Regions from separate parts of the Homo sapiens genome. Here region 1 is linked to region 2. A link means that fine-mapping ties the variant in region 2 to the expression of a gene that starts in the linked region. Tissue or cell type: whole blood. Region 2 holds a variant in brackets; the other region holds the start of a gene. All regions are shown on one strand. Distances are from middle to middle.

Region 1 (8,105 bases), 59 kb before region 2:
TTTAAAACCTTTTGAAAGGAGCACCTAAAAGGAAAATAGAACAAAGTGGGATCTCGTAGTCCTGACTGGGAAAACAATTCTATAAATATGTCAATAATCCCCTCAATTTCTTTTTTATCATTTGGCATTAGAAACCTTTTATTGAGACAAACGGTGGGCTGAAAATAATACAGGGTGAAGGAAGGTTGAGGAAACCAGTATGAAGGCATCTCAAATGATGAACTAAATACATTCCAAAGGTACTATTTACACTTAAGGCAATTTTAAAAGTGAGGTCTTAACCAAAAAGCCTTTACATGGCATTAAAAAAAAAAAGCGGGGGTCATTTAAATCTTTTGGATTGACTAAAAGAGCTAAATTATGTACCCAAAATCTGTACAGCAGGGGCCTGTTTTCAGCAGGTAAGCCTATTATATGCAAGAAAGAACCTCTTACTCTTGTTACAATTGTCCTGTTTTGCTTTGTTTTACAGGAATATATAACCCCCATCCCCACAGAGTTAGTCCATAAGGCCTCAGTGTCTGCATAGAAATGTGGACCTACCTCTACTAGAGAACTATTTACACTGCACTGTAAATACACGTCTGTGTCCACCCCCACAACTAAGCTGTCAATGCCTTGAGTGAAGGGGTAGTTACAACTCAGTCATTTTGTATCTACAGTGACAATTAATAGGCACTCAATACTTTTTTTTGCATGAATGATAAATGATATTACACTACCACCACTATTTACATTAACATTTCCCATCATTAGCTGTCCCCAAAATAAAAACACCAAATTGCTGCCACATTTTCAGCAGTTTTCATAATATAGTGCTTCTGGACTTTTTAATGTAAACAAACATGCTTGATTTACCAATTTTCAGAGTAATGACACAAACTTAGCATTCTTCTTGGAATGGAAAACTTTCTGGGAAGTTACTTCATTCTTTTTCTCTTTTCAAAAGGCATCTCGCAGCGCCAACTGTTTTTCTCAGAAGGAACGCTTATTTTCTGACCAGACATTCTGGCTATACCACATCATCATAAAGTTCTTCTGTTTTTTCTTCTCTTTACTTTTTGAACTGGAAAATGGATTCACTTTGGTTTTCTTCCTCACAAATTCTTTTCGGTCTGTCTTTCCAGCCATTGCAGTTGCTAGTCTTGTCTCTTTGTCAGATTTTGGCTTTTTATGAAGGCGTTCAATGTCCGGAAGAGAAAGTAATTCACCCCTCGGCTCTTCATCACTGTCGATTTCAATATATTTCCTCTTCTGGGATTTCCCGGGGACAGCGTCAAGTTCTTTTCTCATTTGCGCCATGCGGATTTTCTGGAAGTCTTCCTAACTTAAAACTCGACTGGTGCTGACGGCTGCAGTTTTGGCTTTCTGCTCCTCCATGGGCATGGTGTTCAGCTTCTTGGAAATTTCTTGCTGTTCTTCATTGGAAGAGTGTTGCACATCAACCCATTCGCCATCGGCATCCTCCTCCTCACTGAGACTGGTACTTTCCCATCCATCTTCATCATTTTCAGCACTCTCCTCTTTCTCAACTTCCAGAACTTCTGCTCCTGGAATGTAACCTTTAGCATCTAATTCTCCATATTCTTGTACTCTTGCTTCTATGGAGGCTTCTGTAGGCTTACCCCAGAATTTCTTCTGCAGCATCTGAGGATTCAGTGTTCGGAAGAGCCGAATCAAAGTTCTAGCAGACATCATTACATTATTATCCTTGTGTGTTTTATACTGAGCCAGGTCTTGGAGAAGCTTTTCAGTCATGGCCAGAGGACACTGAGCTGTTGTCTCTTTTACAGCATTGATTCCTATTGTCATGGCTTCTCCAGAGTTCTTGTCGTTAACAAAATTGTTGGCCACAGTCATAAGCAATGATTGAATAATCGCTGGGTGTACTAGGTGATGAGATGCTTGTGCAGCAAACAGAAGGTTCTTTGTTACTTCTCTTTGGTGGGGCTGCAGAAACCTTCGCAAAAAGTGATAGAAATTGAAGAGGAAGAGCTTATGAATTCCCACCAATCTGAGATGAGGTTCATGAGCATCATCTTCACTTCCAACCTCTCCTTACAGCACTCAAGCTGCTTTAGTAGTTTTTCTGCAAAATCTTGGGGATCATGAATCAAGTGAACGGCTAAAAAGTTAAACACCTCTGGTTTTTTCTTCTTCTTTTGTTTCTTGAGCACTTTCATTGCCTTTTCCAACTTTTTCTTGTTTTGGGAACTTTGTTCCCTGTAGCATACTGTGCTAGCAGGTCTCTTGCTGTTGGTCCGTCATCCTCAGATTCGGAGTCACTGGCCTGTTTTTCATCTTCATCTTTTCCAAGAAAGAATGTCAAAGCAGCAACTAATATCTTGGTGACCTAAGAGAAACATGCAGTTGTGATAACATTGACAGTTTTGGTATCATTCCAGATGTTCCTTCTGTAGAGTTCAATCATAACATCTAAAGACATCTTGGCTGCAGTTGCATTGCTATCTCTCAACATGGTATACATGAAATTTTACAATACTACATCCACTTTATTCTTGTGTTTTGCATTTATATTCTTGATATCAGTCACGATATATGTGTATGAAGTCTTTTGCAGAAGCTTATCATGGCAACAGAGAAGTTCAAAGAAGAGTTCTAGCAGGCTTGATGGATTGATGAGATTCTTATTTCTCAGCAAGATCAAAGCTTTGCAAAATGTCATTCGAAGATCTGGATCCAATACAGTATGATTACAGGACAGAAGATCTTTCACCACTTGAGGAAAATTACTTAGATACCCTGGGTAGCAGTAACTAATCTATAACAAAGCAAAGGCTCTTCTGAAGTTTCTCTCTTTCTCTCCTATTATTCAGATGCACATATTTAGGACGTTCTGTGCCATAAACACCACCAGCTCTGCTAGTTCTTTACCGGGTTTATATGGTTGCAATTTGAAAATCTCCACATTGGATGTGTAGTGATTATACTGCTGTAGAAACTCCTAGATGGAGGGTGGTGGGTCTCGCTTCATCAGATTCTGTAACTGCAGTCAGGTTGCTGGGCAGCTTGTTGTTGTTTCTGCTGGACATTCTGGCTGAAGACTGGCTTCGCGGCGAGCAGTTTTAATAAAACTCAGATGGCCAGCAGCCGCCAATCCCTACCAGCTGCGGCTTGAACTCCTGCTTCCGGGTATGACCGGAAACAGCACTCAATCTATTAATAGAGTTCATTTCTGACCAAAATCTTAAAAGAATTTGCAAAGGGATTTGACAAATCAATCCTTAAAAAAAACCTTTTAGCATGGACTTTTTCAAATATATTAAAAAATTAGAGGAATACTTTAATGTATTACATAGCTTCAATAATTACCAACACAAGGTCAATCTTGGACAAGTCCATTTTTAAGTTCATCTGAAGAGTAACTAGCCATTAACATCTGAAAAAGACAAAGGAAGAGAAACTTTAATAGTTATCTAACAGAGGTATTGCAGATAGCCCTGAAACAGACTCACATTTTTGTGGTCATTCAGAGAGTGACAAAGGTGCAATTTCAAATCAGTGTAGAAAGGATGGCTTAAAATTAATATTATTAGGTCAATGGGCTACAAAATTGGGAAGAATTGAAGTTAAATAATTTACAGCATATGGAAAATAAATTTCAGATGGATTAGAGCTCTAAATGTAAAGTTAAGCCTATAAGAAAATTAGAAAAAGTTATAAGGGAATTATAGATTAGTAATCTTGGTGTGACTGTCTCCCCAAGCCATGTAAGAATGATAAATCTGATTACATGAAAACCTTAAGCTTCTACAGAGTGAAAAAAACAAATTAAAAGACAAGTTAGAGACTGCGAGAAACATATGTCACTCATAAATCAGACCAAGGAGACTGGACGAAGACATGGAGATGTGAAGTAGGAGGTGTGCTCAGGAACATAGTTTAATGTCATCCACGTACAGGATAAACGGCTTCCCACGTCATGTCCCAGAAATCGATTAGTCGATGGGATTTGGGTGAGTACTTTCTTCTCTCTGTTTTCCTGAATTTTTCTTTTTTCTTTCTTCCCCTTTCTTCTTTCTCTTTTTTTCAGAATGATGGTGTGTTTGTAATCGACATTTTAAAAATTCTGTAACAATTAAATTTGGGGGCGGCCTTCCCTTGTTTCCCGTATGGAGTGTTGATGTTTCAGCAGCTTTATTTGGAGTTTACACGTGGAGGCACCTGGGTTTGGGGATTCCTTTGTGTCCCCAAGACACCTATTGCAGAAGTGAGTCCTAAGAGGTAGAAAACAGATGCGTGCGCAGGGCTGGGTGAAGCACTGTGGAGCCTGTGTGAGAGGAGGCACGGGCGCGAACACAGGAGCGCACTTCCTCATTCCGTTTCTCCTCATCCTCTCTCCCACTGCCACTGGCATCACTCATCCCATCCGGTCATCCCAAGTCACACGCAAGAGTTCGTTCCCGGCGCGCGCGTCAGCCTGACTCGAGCGTCTCCACGTCCGGGGCCCGCAGGGGAGCGCCCCTGCCCCGTCCGGTCGCTTGTTGTGTTGTCATCACGTGGCCTGGGCGGGCCCTGACGTCAGGGGCAGGGGAGGGACGGCGCAGGCGCAGAAAAGGGGGCGGCGGACTCGGCTTGTTGTGTTGCTGCCTGAGTGCCGGAGACGGTCCTGCTGCTGCCGCAGTCCTGCCAGCTGTCCGACAATGTCGTCCCACCTAGTCGAGCCGCCGCCGCCCCTGCACAACAACAACAACAACTGCGAGGAAAATGAGCAGTCTCTGCCCCCGCCGGCCGGCCTCAACAGTGAGTGCGGGGCCGAGGCTCTGTGAAGGGGATGGGGGAGGAGGAGCAGCCCCGGCCGCCGCCACCGGCGCGGCGCGGGAGGCGGGAGGAGAAGGCAGCTCATTGGCTCAGGCATGGGATGTCCAGGTGACTGACAGCTCCCGTCCCCTGTCAAGAGGAGGGGCGCCTGCCTTGCTCCGGGCCTCTCTGTTGCCTCCTGGGGTCTTGGGCCCGGGGCCGTTTGGGCTCGCGGTCCGGGAGCGGCGCGGGTAGCGCGGATCCCCCTGGTGCGGGGGGTGGTCCCCAGCAGCGGAGCCGGGCGGGGCGGGGCGGGGGCGGGCCTGGGGGGCGGGGAGGCCGGGTGGGCGGAGCGGGCCGCGGAGGGGACGTGGGCCGGGATGGGGACGTGCGGCGGGGACGCCGGGGGATGGACGCGCGGGAGCGGGGCGGGGCGGGCGGCTGCCGCGGGACGTGTCGGGGATCAGGTGTGCGGGGCTCGCGGGCGGGCAGCGTCTGGCGGGCGCGGGAGCCCCCCAGCGAGCATTCCTTTGTTGCCACACGTTTGTCAGGAAAATTCATTTGCTCGTCTAGGGTTGGCTTCAGTCACGTGTGGGGTGAGAGGCTGTGCCTTGCTTCTCCTTTTTCCTTTTTTATTTTTTTATTAGATTTCTCGAAGTTGCCCAAGTGATTTTTTTTTTTTTAAAGCGATGGGTTGTGCGCCCAGTAAAGCTGAGAGCAGCCTCCTGAACCACCCAAGATTGCACACGTCAGGGAGTCTGGGGCCATGCATTTAAAGAAACGGAATTAAAAACGCACTCGGGCAGTTGAAAGTTAACGGACGAGGCTGATAGACAACCCAGGCCAGGGTCTTTTCATAACATTCCGCTGCCCAGACATCTTGTCCTCAGATTGTTCCTAGTCGTGAGAACCGGGAGCCTTCTTGGAAGGGTTCTTGCCTAACCTTTCTTTAATTCAACTCTTGGGAAAGAGGTAATGGGAGCAGTGAGCATATGGCCAGATGAAGTCTTTTCAAAACCACTTGGATGCTTAAAGGTCATGCAGTATCTTTCGTAAGAGGGAGGTGCTTCCAGTGTGGCCTGAAGATTATTTTAGGGAAGAGAGTTTCAGCCCTCACCAGGTAGCGATGGAGTTTGGAGATTTTAAGATGGATGCTGCTGCTCCAGGTTTTGATGGGTTAATTCCCAAAACCTTTAAGTGTCATATATTCCAGAATGTAAGATGGTTATATTATTTCCCACAGTAAATTAGGATGAATGTATGAGTCTTTAAACGTTACTTGTATCACATATTCCTATGCAATTTTAAGTTATTTGCCCATGTTTAGCATACTGTCTTAGATTTTAGAATGGGAAGAAACTTCAGAGCTAGCTAACTGCCTCCTGTTGTTTGCCTGTAGAGAAACAGGTCTAGAGTAAATGGCCTTGTCCAAGTTCACAACCGGCTGGGAGCAAAGCAGAGGTTCTCATGTTCAGCCTGTCTACTGCTCTTTTGAGGACATTTTTTTTTTTTTTTTTTTTTTTTTGAGGTAGAGTCTCGCTCTGTCTACAACCTCCGCCTCCCAGGTTCAAGCGATTCTTCTGCCTCAGCCTCCCGAGTAGCTGGGACTACAGGTGCCTGCCACCCGCCCAGCTAATTTTTGTATTTTTAGTAGAGACGAAGTTTCGCCATGTAGCTGGGATTACAGGCGCCCGACACCAAGCTAGGCTAATTTTTGTATTTTCAGTAGAGAGGGGGTTGTTGGTCTCTCACCATGTTGGCCAGGCTGGTCTCAAACTCCTGACCTCACGTCATCCGCCCGCCTGGGCCTCCCAAAGTGCTGGGATTACAGGCTTGAGCCATCGCACCGGCTTCTTTTCAGTGGTGCAGAACCTCCTGCTGGTGTGTGTGTCTTATTTTGTCAGTGTGTTATTCTACCTAATTGACAAAGGTGGCCAACCTTTCTGTTTCTTTTTAGTATTGTTTCTTAATTGTACAGTTTTCTTATGAGTGAAGATACTTGGTAGGTGTACGTGATTTCACTGAAAGCAAAGGGATTTTCATCTTCCTTTGACCCTTTAACAACAACAACAAAAAGGGCTGAGCCAGGCAGGGCACGATGGCTCACACCTGTCATCCTAGCACTTTGGGAGGCCAAAGCGAGTGGATCACTTGAGGTCAGGAGTTCGAGACCAGCCTGGCCAACATGGTGAGAGAACAACCCCCTCTCTACTGAAAATACAAAAATTAGCCTGGCTTGGTGTTGGGCGCCTGTAATCCCAGCTATTCAGGCGGCTGAGGCAGGAGAATCGCTTGAATCCGGGAGGCAGAGGTTGCAGTGAGCCGAGATCACGCCACTGCACTCCAGCCTGGGTGACAGAGCAAGACTCTGTCTCAAAAAAAAAAAGGGGCGAGGGCGGGGGCTGAGCCATATGTCATTGTTTATCTTGGTGTCTGACAGACCTATGAGGAGTTTGATGTCTTTGGCCAGTCGGTTCCTGCTTGGCTGACATCAGCTCTTACAGAGGTGGAAGTACACTCAGCCTGCATGGGACATCAAAATGTTGCTTTGGGACATCTGCTAGATAGAAAGTATTTTGTGTGGGATAGGGTGAGCTTTCTGAAAAGCTTTTAGATATTGCCATATTTAATTACTCCCTTCTTGCCTCTCACTCTGTTCGTTTTTTTAGCTCATTACACAACACTGTACTGAACAAAACAAGAAGCCTCATTGAATTCCTTGAAGTGATTTTTGGGCAATGGGCAAAACAACTTATTCAGGCATCTAGTACTATCCAAATTGCTGATAAGTCGAAGGACTTTGTTGGGTAAAGTTGCACAACTGAAAAACAGGAGAAGAAATGTACAGATTATCTTGCGTTTGGGATTTTATCTTTGGTTCAGGGGTCAAAGCAGGGTTTCAATAGCAAATTACTGAAGTATTTGAATAGTGAAGTATTTTTGTGATTTTTTTTTAACTTTACCGCTGTGGAGAGACTGTTCACTTTCATTAAAAATTACAGGGCAAATACCCAAACTCCTTCCAAGTCAAAAGGATGTTGTCCAGTTTGTTTTATTGTTAAGAAAACTATCAACTTCCTTAAGAATGTTTGAATAAGATTCAATAGGGCCGAATAAGGAAAATCAAAGTAGTAGTGTAAATCGTAGTATAATTCTTGTTGTTGAGAAGTATAGCCTTTTTTTTCTTTTCAAATTTTCTTGTTCTTTTTTGTTTTTTGTTTTGTTGAGACAGGGTCTTGCTTTGTCACCCAAACTGGAGTGCAGTGGTACAGTCATAGCTCATGGCAGCTTAGACCTCCTGGGCTCAAGTGATCCTCCTGCCTCAGCCTCCCAAGTAGCTAGGA
Region 2 (8,105 bases):
TCTCAGAAAGTGAGAGGCAGTGAGCACGGTGGTCCGGAGCCAGGAGCTTGGAGCCAGTCTGCTCGGGAGGAATCCTGGTTCTGACACTTAGTCACACAGACTTAGGCAAGTCGCCTAATCTCCTGCACCTGATTTCTTCTTCTTCTGTAAATAATATCAGCAGTTGCACTTCTGGCTACCCCCAAAGAAGTGAAAGCAGGGGCTGGAAGGGATGCTTGCCCACCTGTGTTCACAGCAGCACTATTCAGAATAGGCAAAACGTGGAAGCAACTCAAGTGCCCGTCAAAGGATGAACGGATAAACAATGGCGGCTGAATGTACAAGGGAATATTATCTAGCTTTAAAAAGAAATGAAATTTGGACACATGCTACACACAACACGGGTGAAGCTTGAGGACATTATGCTAAGTGAAATAAACCAGACACAAAAAGAAAGTACTGTGTGATTCCACTTATATGAGGTACATAGAGGAGTCAAGTTCATAGAGACAGAAAGTAGATGGAGTTGCCAGAGGCTGGGGAAGGGGAGGAGGGAATGATTGCTTAATGGGCATAGCATTATGGTTTTGCAAGATGAAACCATTCCGGAGGTGGATGGTGGTGATGATTGCACAACAATTTGTGTGCATTTAATTGGCACTGGACTGTACACTTACAAATGGTTAAGATGGCAAATGTAATGTAGATTTTACCACAATAAAAAGGGAGGGGGATGATAATAGTATCTGTTTATTGTGAGGATTAACTGAGCTGATACGTGTAGAGTATGGGGCAGTGTCCAGAAGCAGCAGGTGCTCAGTGAATGTCAGTTATGATTGTTCTCTAAACACATTCACCTTAGTAAGATGCACACTCATTTTATTTCTATGTTTATTTTTTTTGAGACAGGGTCTTACTCTGTTGCTCAGGCTGAAATACAGTCGTGTGATCACCGCTCACCATAGCCTTGACCTCCTGGGCCCAAGTGATCTCCCACCTCAGCCTCCCGAGCAGCTGGGACTATAGGCATGTGCCACTATGCCCCACCAATTTTGTTGTATTTTTTGTAGAGGCGGGATTTTGCCATGTTCCCAAGCTGGTCTTGGACTCCTGGTCTTAAGTGATCCTCCTGCCTCGGCCTCCCAGAGTGGTGGGATTATAGGGGTGAGCCACCATGCTTGGCTCATTTTATAAACAATTGTCCCTAAGAGTCCACCATCTGGGCTTGTCCCCACATGATCCCTCATGTGACCCTCCAGTAGCCACCATAGTTGCTTCTGAGGTGTCTCTCATTCTCCCCTGAAAATGGGCAGAATCAGTTAACTTTCACTTAAGAGTTTTTAACCTTAGTTATAAATTAATCCGTTTTGTCGACAAAACTTGAGCCAAGACTCAGCTGACAATAGTCAGAAGTGCCTCAAGTACTTAGGTATTATATGGTCTGAGGACGGTTGGGTAATCCAGGTCTCCCATCAGGGAGCAAACTCCAGCCAGCCCTGAGAGGCAGGAGGTGCTTGGGCTGAGCTTGGGGCTGGGTGCCAGTGCCAGGCACCCTGGGTCTGGGCAGCACCCTCTTCCTGGCTTTCTGATCTGGTGACGACCCCAGTGCTGTTATCTTTTTTTTTTTTTTTTTTTTGAGATAGCGTCTCACTCTATAGCCCAGGCTGGAGTGCAATGGCAAGATCTCAGCTCATTGCAACCTCCACCTCCCAGCTCAACCGATCCTCCCTACCTCAGTCTCCTGAGTAGCTGGGACTACAGTTGTGTGTGATTGTGCCCAGCTAATTTTCGTATTTTTTTGTAGAGACAGAGTTTTGCCATATTGCCCAGGCTGGTTTCGAACTCCTGGACTCAAGTGATCCACCCGCCTCTGCCTCCCAAAGTGCTGGGATTACATACAGGTGTGAGCCACTGCACCCAGCCAGGCAGCTTTTTATTAGACTTTCACTAGGTCCTTGTAGGTGGAACCTTAGTGGTCACAGTGGGCCAGGAGGGTTTGGCTAGTTTTGGCCTTTGTAGCCATCTTTGAATTACACTATTAGTAGATCAGTCTGGTCTCTAAAAGGAAAAAGACCACAGTCATTATTGGAGTTTGACTATTCCGTTTAAAATGTAGCTTTTAAGTGAGGTACATCATAAAGGATCTACTGGCTGGGCACGGTGGCTCACGCCTGTAAGCCCAGCACTTTGGGAGGCCGAGACGGGCAGATCACTTGAGGCCAGGAGTTTGAGACCAGCCTGGGCAACATGGTGAAACCCCATCTCTACTAAAAATACAAAAATTAGCTGGGCATGGTGGTACGTGCCTGTAATCCCAGCTACTCAGGAGGCTGAGGCAGGACAATCACTTGAACCCGGGAGGCGGAGGTTTCAGTGAGCCAAGATCACTCCATTGCATTCCAGCCTGAGTGACAGAGCAAGACTCTGTTTAAAAAAGACAACGAAAACCGAAAAACAAAGAACAGGTGGAGTCTACTGACTTGCATGAGTCAGGTAATTCATTGACCGGGGCTGGTCAAAAAGATGGGTTGATCCTTACTGTGGAAGCTCTCAGCTGCCCTGCAATACTTTGGAAATAAACCAGGCAAAACACTGCTCAGTGTGCTGCACTCCAGACACAAACAGGAAGCTGCTCTTTCTCTGCTTCCCTCCCCCACAATCAGACTCTTGTAACTCTCTTTTCTTCTTTTTCTAAAATGAATCTGGGAGTTTCCTTTAGCCCCTGTTTTGTGGTCGCCTCCCATACACGTTTTATCTGTCCGTGGCATTTTCTTTTATTTATTGAAAGCACCGTGTCTTAGATCAAGTCTTGAGAAACAGAACCTGAGACAAACATGAATGTGGTTAATTGAACGAGCGCTGTGCAGGAAAAGCTGTACTGGAGAGAGGTAAGCGGACAGATACGGGGAAGAGCTGGGCCCAGCAAAGATGAGGTCTCAAGTAAAGCTTATGTTTGGCTTAATCCACCGGGGACGGTTCTGGAACATAAGCCACACCGCAGAGCTGTGATGTCACACCTTGAGGCGAGGGCCTTGCCTCCTGGTATCAGTCAGTCCTGGCTGTGGGGAGCAAGGTGGCTCCACTCAGTGCAAGGCCATCCTGGGCAAGGGGCAGCCCCCCTCACCGCAGTGGCCTGGCAGTGGGGCCCTGGGTCCGGCACAGCTCCTCCTTCGCACAGTGCTGTCTGCTCGCCCGGTGTCTTTCATGCCGTTTCCCACCAACTTCCCTC[C/T]TCTGCCTCCTGCTCTGCATTGCACAGTGCAGCGAGGTTGCCAATTCCATAGTTGTAGCGGCTGTGGGGGAAGGGGCAGGCGGGACAGGGGAGGCAGCCATCTAACTTTTGTCCTGACTCACGCAGGCCTGGCCTGGTGTTCAGAACACAAATGTGAAAAATCAGACCGGGAAGATCACGGGAGGCAGGAAGCATCTGGTTTGCAGGTAGGGAAGTGACAGACCCCGCGGATGCCATGCACAAGGGTACACAGTGGAGTGGGGATGAAATCAGGGCGGAAGTGCAGGGCTCCTGAGCCCGGGGCTGGGGCTGTTTCCCCAACTGTCCGCTGCCTCTGCTGCCTCCTGAGATCGTCTCCTTCTGCTGTCTGCCCGCTGGAACTTATTTTTAGTTTTAATTTTTTCGAGACAGGGTTTTAATCTGTCACCTGGGCTGGAGTGTAGTGTCGTGATCAGGGCTGACTGCAGCTTCAACCTCTCGGGCTCAAGTGATCCTCCCACCTTAGTTTCCCAAACAACCAGGACTACAGATGCATGCCACCAAGCCTGCCTAATTTATTTTTTTATTTTTCAATTTTTAGTAGAAATTTAAAAATCCCCCAGTGTGGCTGATTGGCTGACAGCCACACTGAAGCTTTATTCCTGCCTCTCCTCACTCAGCAATCCTCATTCCTCAAATACCTCTTCTCCCTGTTGTCCAAATGTCCCCTGTACTTCAAGACCCATAGGTCACATCCTCCAAGAAATCTTCCCAGTCCACACTTATCCTTCTTTTAAATCAGGGGTGCACACCCTGGTTACATGTTACAATCACCTAGGAAGCTTTAAAAAATAAGATTAGGGGTTAGGGAGAGGGGACCAGACCAGCTGAATCAGACTCTCTGAAAATAGGACCTGGGCATTTGTAGTTTTTAAAGCTCCCATGTCATTCTAACATAGCCAGGATTGAGAAGTACCGTTCTAAGCAAATATTACAAATATGTCTTGCTTCCACACCCATGGCTATGTTTTGTTTGTTTGTTTGTTTTTGAGAAGGAGTCTCACTCTGTCACCCAGGCTGGAGTGCAGTGGCGTGATCTCAGCTGACTGCAATCTCCACCCAAGTTCAAGAGATTCTTCTGCCTCAGCCTCCCACGTAGCTGGGACTACAGGTATGTGTCACCACTCCTGGCTAACTTTTTTATTTTTAGTGGAGAATGGGTTTCACCATGTTGGCCAGGCTGGCCTTGAAATCCTGACCTCAAGTGATCCACCCACCTCGACCTCCCAAAGTGCTGGGATTATAGGAATGAGCCACCACGCCTGGCCACCCTTGGCTATGTTATTAAAGACATGCAAGGGAAACATTAACTTCCATATTAAAATATTCTCTTTCTTTTTTTATCCTGTACAGAGCATACCATAGCAGCTTGTGCCTGAGACCTCGACAAATATCTGGGGGATAGATTGGCTTGCAGAGCACATTCTGCCTATAGAAATGAGTTAGCAAGTTTAGTCAGCCATTGTAGATTTCAAAGGGTGAGAAGCCTAGCCAGAGGTTATAATATAGCATGATATCCTCCTGGAAATGGAATTCTTCACTTGCGATGCATTTTAGGAGCCGCTGCTCTGTGTGAGCCACTCTGCTAGGTCCCAGCATGCATGATATTATTCTACACAAAGAATAATATCAGAGCTCACAGCCTATGCAGGAAGTAAGCAATTAGTTACAGCGTGATGTGTACTGCAACCCAGGTAAGTACACAGTGTCATGGATGCTTCCAGGAGGAAGTCATAGTCTGACCAGGAAGTTTGGGAATACTTCTCATAGGAAGCAACAAGCTACCTGGAAAGATCTAGAAAGATGAACAGTACCAGTGTATTGATTAGAAATGCGTTCAGCAGCAAGTCATAGAACACATGACTAGTAAGGTTTAAACAAATAGAAGGTTATTTTCTCATATAATAAGCCCAGAGGTAGGCACTAAAGGTGGTACATTGGCTCAGTGGTGTTGGGACTAAGGTTTCTAAAATTCTCTTGTCCTCTAAGACATGGCTGCAGGTTGGCTGCAGCAGCTCCAGGCATCGTGTCCACACTGAAAGGAGAAAGGGGGAGGCCAGCTATGATTTCCCCTTTTATCAGGAAAGCAGAAACCTTCCTGTGGATTTCTGCTTATATCCCACTAGCCAGAACTGGGTCATGTGGCTATCCTTAGCAGCAAGGGAGCCAGGAAAGAGAGGATTTCACTTCTCCAGCTTCTTCTGTATATGGGAGGGCAGGTAGGTGAAGGGGGCTAGACTGAATCCTGTGTGAGCCAACTAGCAGGCAGAACATTTTGCATAGAACTGCATTTGCAAAAACATGGAGCTGTGAAAGTGTGTGGAACATTTACAGGCTATTTATTTATTTATTTATTTAGAGACAGATTCTTGCTTTGTCGCCCAGGCTAGAGTGCAGTGACACGATCTTGGCTCACTGCAACCTCTGCTTCCTGGGTTCAAGCAATTCTCCTGCCTCAGCATCCCCAGTAGCTGGGATTACAGGTGCCTGCCACCATGCCTGGCTAATTTTTGTATTTTTAGTAGAGACGGGGTTTCACCATGTTGGCCAGGCTGATCTTGAACTCCTGACCTCAAGTGATCCACCCGCCTCAGCCTCCCAAAGTGCTGGGATTACAGGCGTGAGCCACCGCCCCCAGCCTACAATCAAAAAATTTAATATCATCAAATTACAGGGCATGTGGCAGAGAAGTGTGGGCAGACAAGACACAGAGAAGTGGAGATGAGACTCTTCAGACCCTTGAATGACATGTTGAAGAGCTTGGAATTTTCTTATAGAACGTAGGTAATCAATAGAGAGGTTTCATCCGAGGAATGATAAAAATCCATTTGGGAAACAGAGGCGGTGTGGAGGATGGGTCAAGAGAGAATCAGAAGGCAGATGATTTACAGCAATCCAGGCCAGATATCAGGAGGGCCTACTCTAAGATTGCTTTTAGCATAGCTACTGGGGAAGAGTCGGGCAGGAGAGCCCAGAGGCCCCGCATGTGATGGAAACAGCTGCCCAAACTGCATCTTCAGGTAAATATGGCAGACCATAGTTCCCCCTTCATAAAGGCCTCTTGGGCGTGTTTCCTGGAAGGAAGAGGTGGGAGATGTCGCCATGCTCAGCACATACGTGAGGTGTTGCATTAGTCTCCTGGGGCTGCCGTAACAAAGTACCACAAAGCAGATGGAAACAACATGCATTTTTCCCCCCACAGTTCTGGAAGGTGGAAGGCCAGGATCAGGTGTCAGGAGGGTTGGTTTTTTCTGGGGGTTCTGAGAGAATCTGAGGGGAATTCCATGGCTTTCTCCCAGCTTCTGGTAGTTGCTGGCAATCCCTGGTGTTCCTGGGCCTGTAGACACGTCACCCCCATCTCCGCCTCTGTTTTCATGTGGCATCCTCCCCGGTGCGTGTCTGTGTGCCCCAACCCCCTTGTCTTATGAGGCCCACTCTAATCCAACAGGACCTCGTCTTTACATAATCAGATCTGCTAAGATCCTGTTTCCAAATAAGGCCATGTTCACAGATACCTAGGGTTAGGACTTGGACATATCTTTTGGGGGGACCCGATTCAACTCACAACAGGTGTTTGAGGGCAGCTCTAGTTGAGAGTGTCAGAGAACCTCTGGCTTAAAGGAGGAACAGGGAGTCTATCTGCTTGCAATGTCTGAAGTAGAGTGGAGTGGCTTTACTGTCCTTGGTAGAGAGCATGTCCTGCTTCATTCTCAGGAAGGATCTCACTGTGAGGTGGCTACGATTACTCTCTGCCCACCCTGGTTGCATCTGGCTTACAGAAGACAATCCCAGAAGAAACAGTCTCCCCCAAAGTCCGCAGCAACCCTTCCACTAGGAGTCTACTCCTGCTTACACAAGGCCCATGCTCACGCCTCACCCCACTGCTGTGTCCAGGGCTTCGTGGTATCCTGATGGGCTAGCGTGGGTCACACTCCCACCCTTTGAGCCATGGGCCCACCTAGTCCAAATCATAACAACTGAACAGGATGATCACAGGTTGTGGAGATGAATCTGCCAAAGTGATGCTAGGCAGTGCGCTTTCTTTTTTATTTTTAAAATATTTTTTGCATGTATGTATGTATGTGAGACAGTCTCGCTCTGTCGTCCAGGCTGGAGTGCAGTGGCAAGATCTCGGCTCACTGCAACCTCTGCCTCCTGGGTTCAAGCAGTTCTCCTGCCTCAGTCCCCCGAGCTGTGATTACAGGCATGTGCCACCACACCCGGGTAATTTTTGTATTTTTGTTAGAGATGAGAATTCACCATGTTGGCCATGCTGGTCTCCTGACTTCAAGTGATCCGCCTGCCTCAGCCTCCCAAAGTGCTGGGATTACAGGCGTGAGCCACCATGTGCAGCCAGTAGTGCTCTTTCTTTACCTCTGCCCAAATGAGGACAAGGAGATGAAGCGTGGCTGAAAGCATCAGCCTCTTCCCAGCTGTCCTGATTGCATGGGCCGCTTGTCCACTGGACAGGTACTTTTCCTGCCGGGCCTGCTCGTGTGGTTTGGACAGATGCCCAACTGTCAGGCTCACTCTGTTCTGTTCAGGGAGCTGGCATTTGCTCCAGTTTCCTCACCTGCCCACAGGGCAGGTGTGTGTCTGTGCGCCCCAACCCCCTTGTCTTATGAGGCCCACTCTAATCCAAAAGGACCTCATCTTTACATAATCAGATCTGCTACGATACTATTTCCAAATAAGGCCATGTTCACAGATATATGAATGGTAAGAGCCAGTGGGCCAGGTTGCCCATGTGAGGGAGCCGGTCTCCGCACCTTGAATTTCTCTACTGTTCTGGCCTCCGGGGCCATGACATTGAGGATGGCTGGCCACTGGGCATTGCTCCTTGCACCATTTTCTCTGG

The links. PIP is the estimated chance that this variant, and not a neighbour inherited with it, causes the effect.
Region 1: BNIP3L starts here. The variant in region 2 is fine-mapped to the expression of BNIP3L in whole blood (TOPMed, PIP above 0.99). The same link has a PIP of 0.9 or more in blood mononuclear cells.

Annotation. Positions count from the first base shown.
Region 1 is chr8:26,378,467-26,386,571 of GRCh38, forward strand. It overlaps BNIP3L (BCL2 interacting protein 3 like), which reads left to right and starts at 4,588. Exons shown (of 6, transcript NM_004331.3): 1 at 4,588-4,764. The coding sequence starts at 4,665. It also overlaps the pseudogene SDAD1P1. RefSeq lists enhancers at 3,065-4,264, 4,238-4,537 and silencers at 4,748-5,337, 7,087-7,381.
Region 2 is chr8:26,437,838-26,445,942 of GRCh38, forward strand. No RefSeq gene overlaps it. Among named protein-coding and RNA genes, the nearest start is that of BNIP3L, 59 kb to the left of the region's middle. RefSeq lists an enhancer at 3,129-3,258. The variant C/T (reference allele first, on the strand shown) is at 3,209.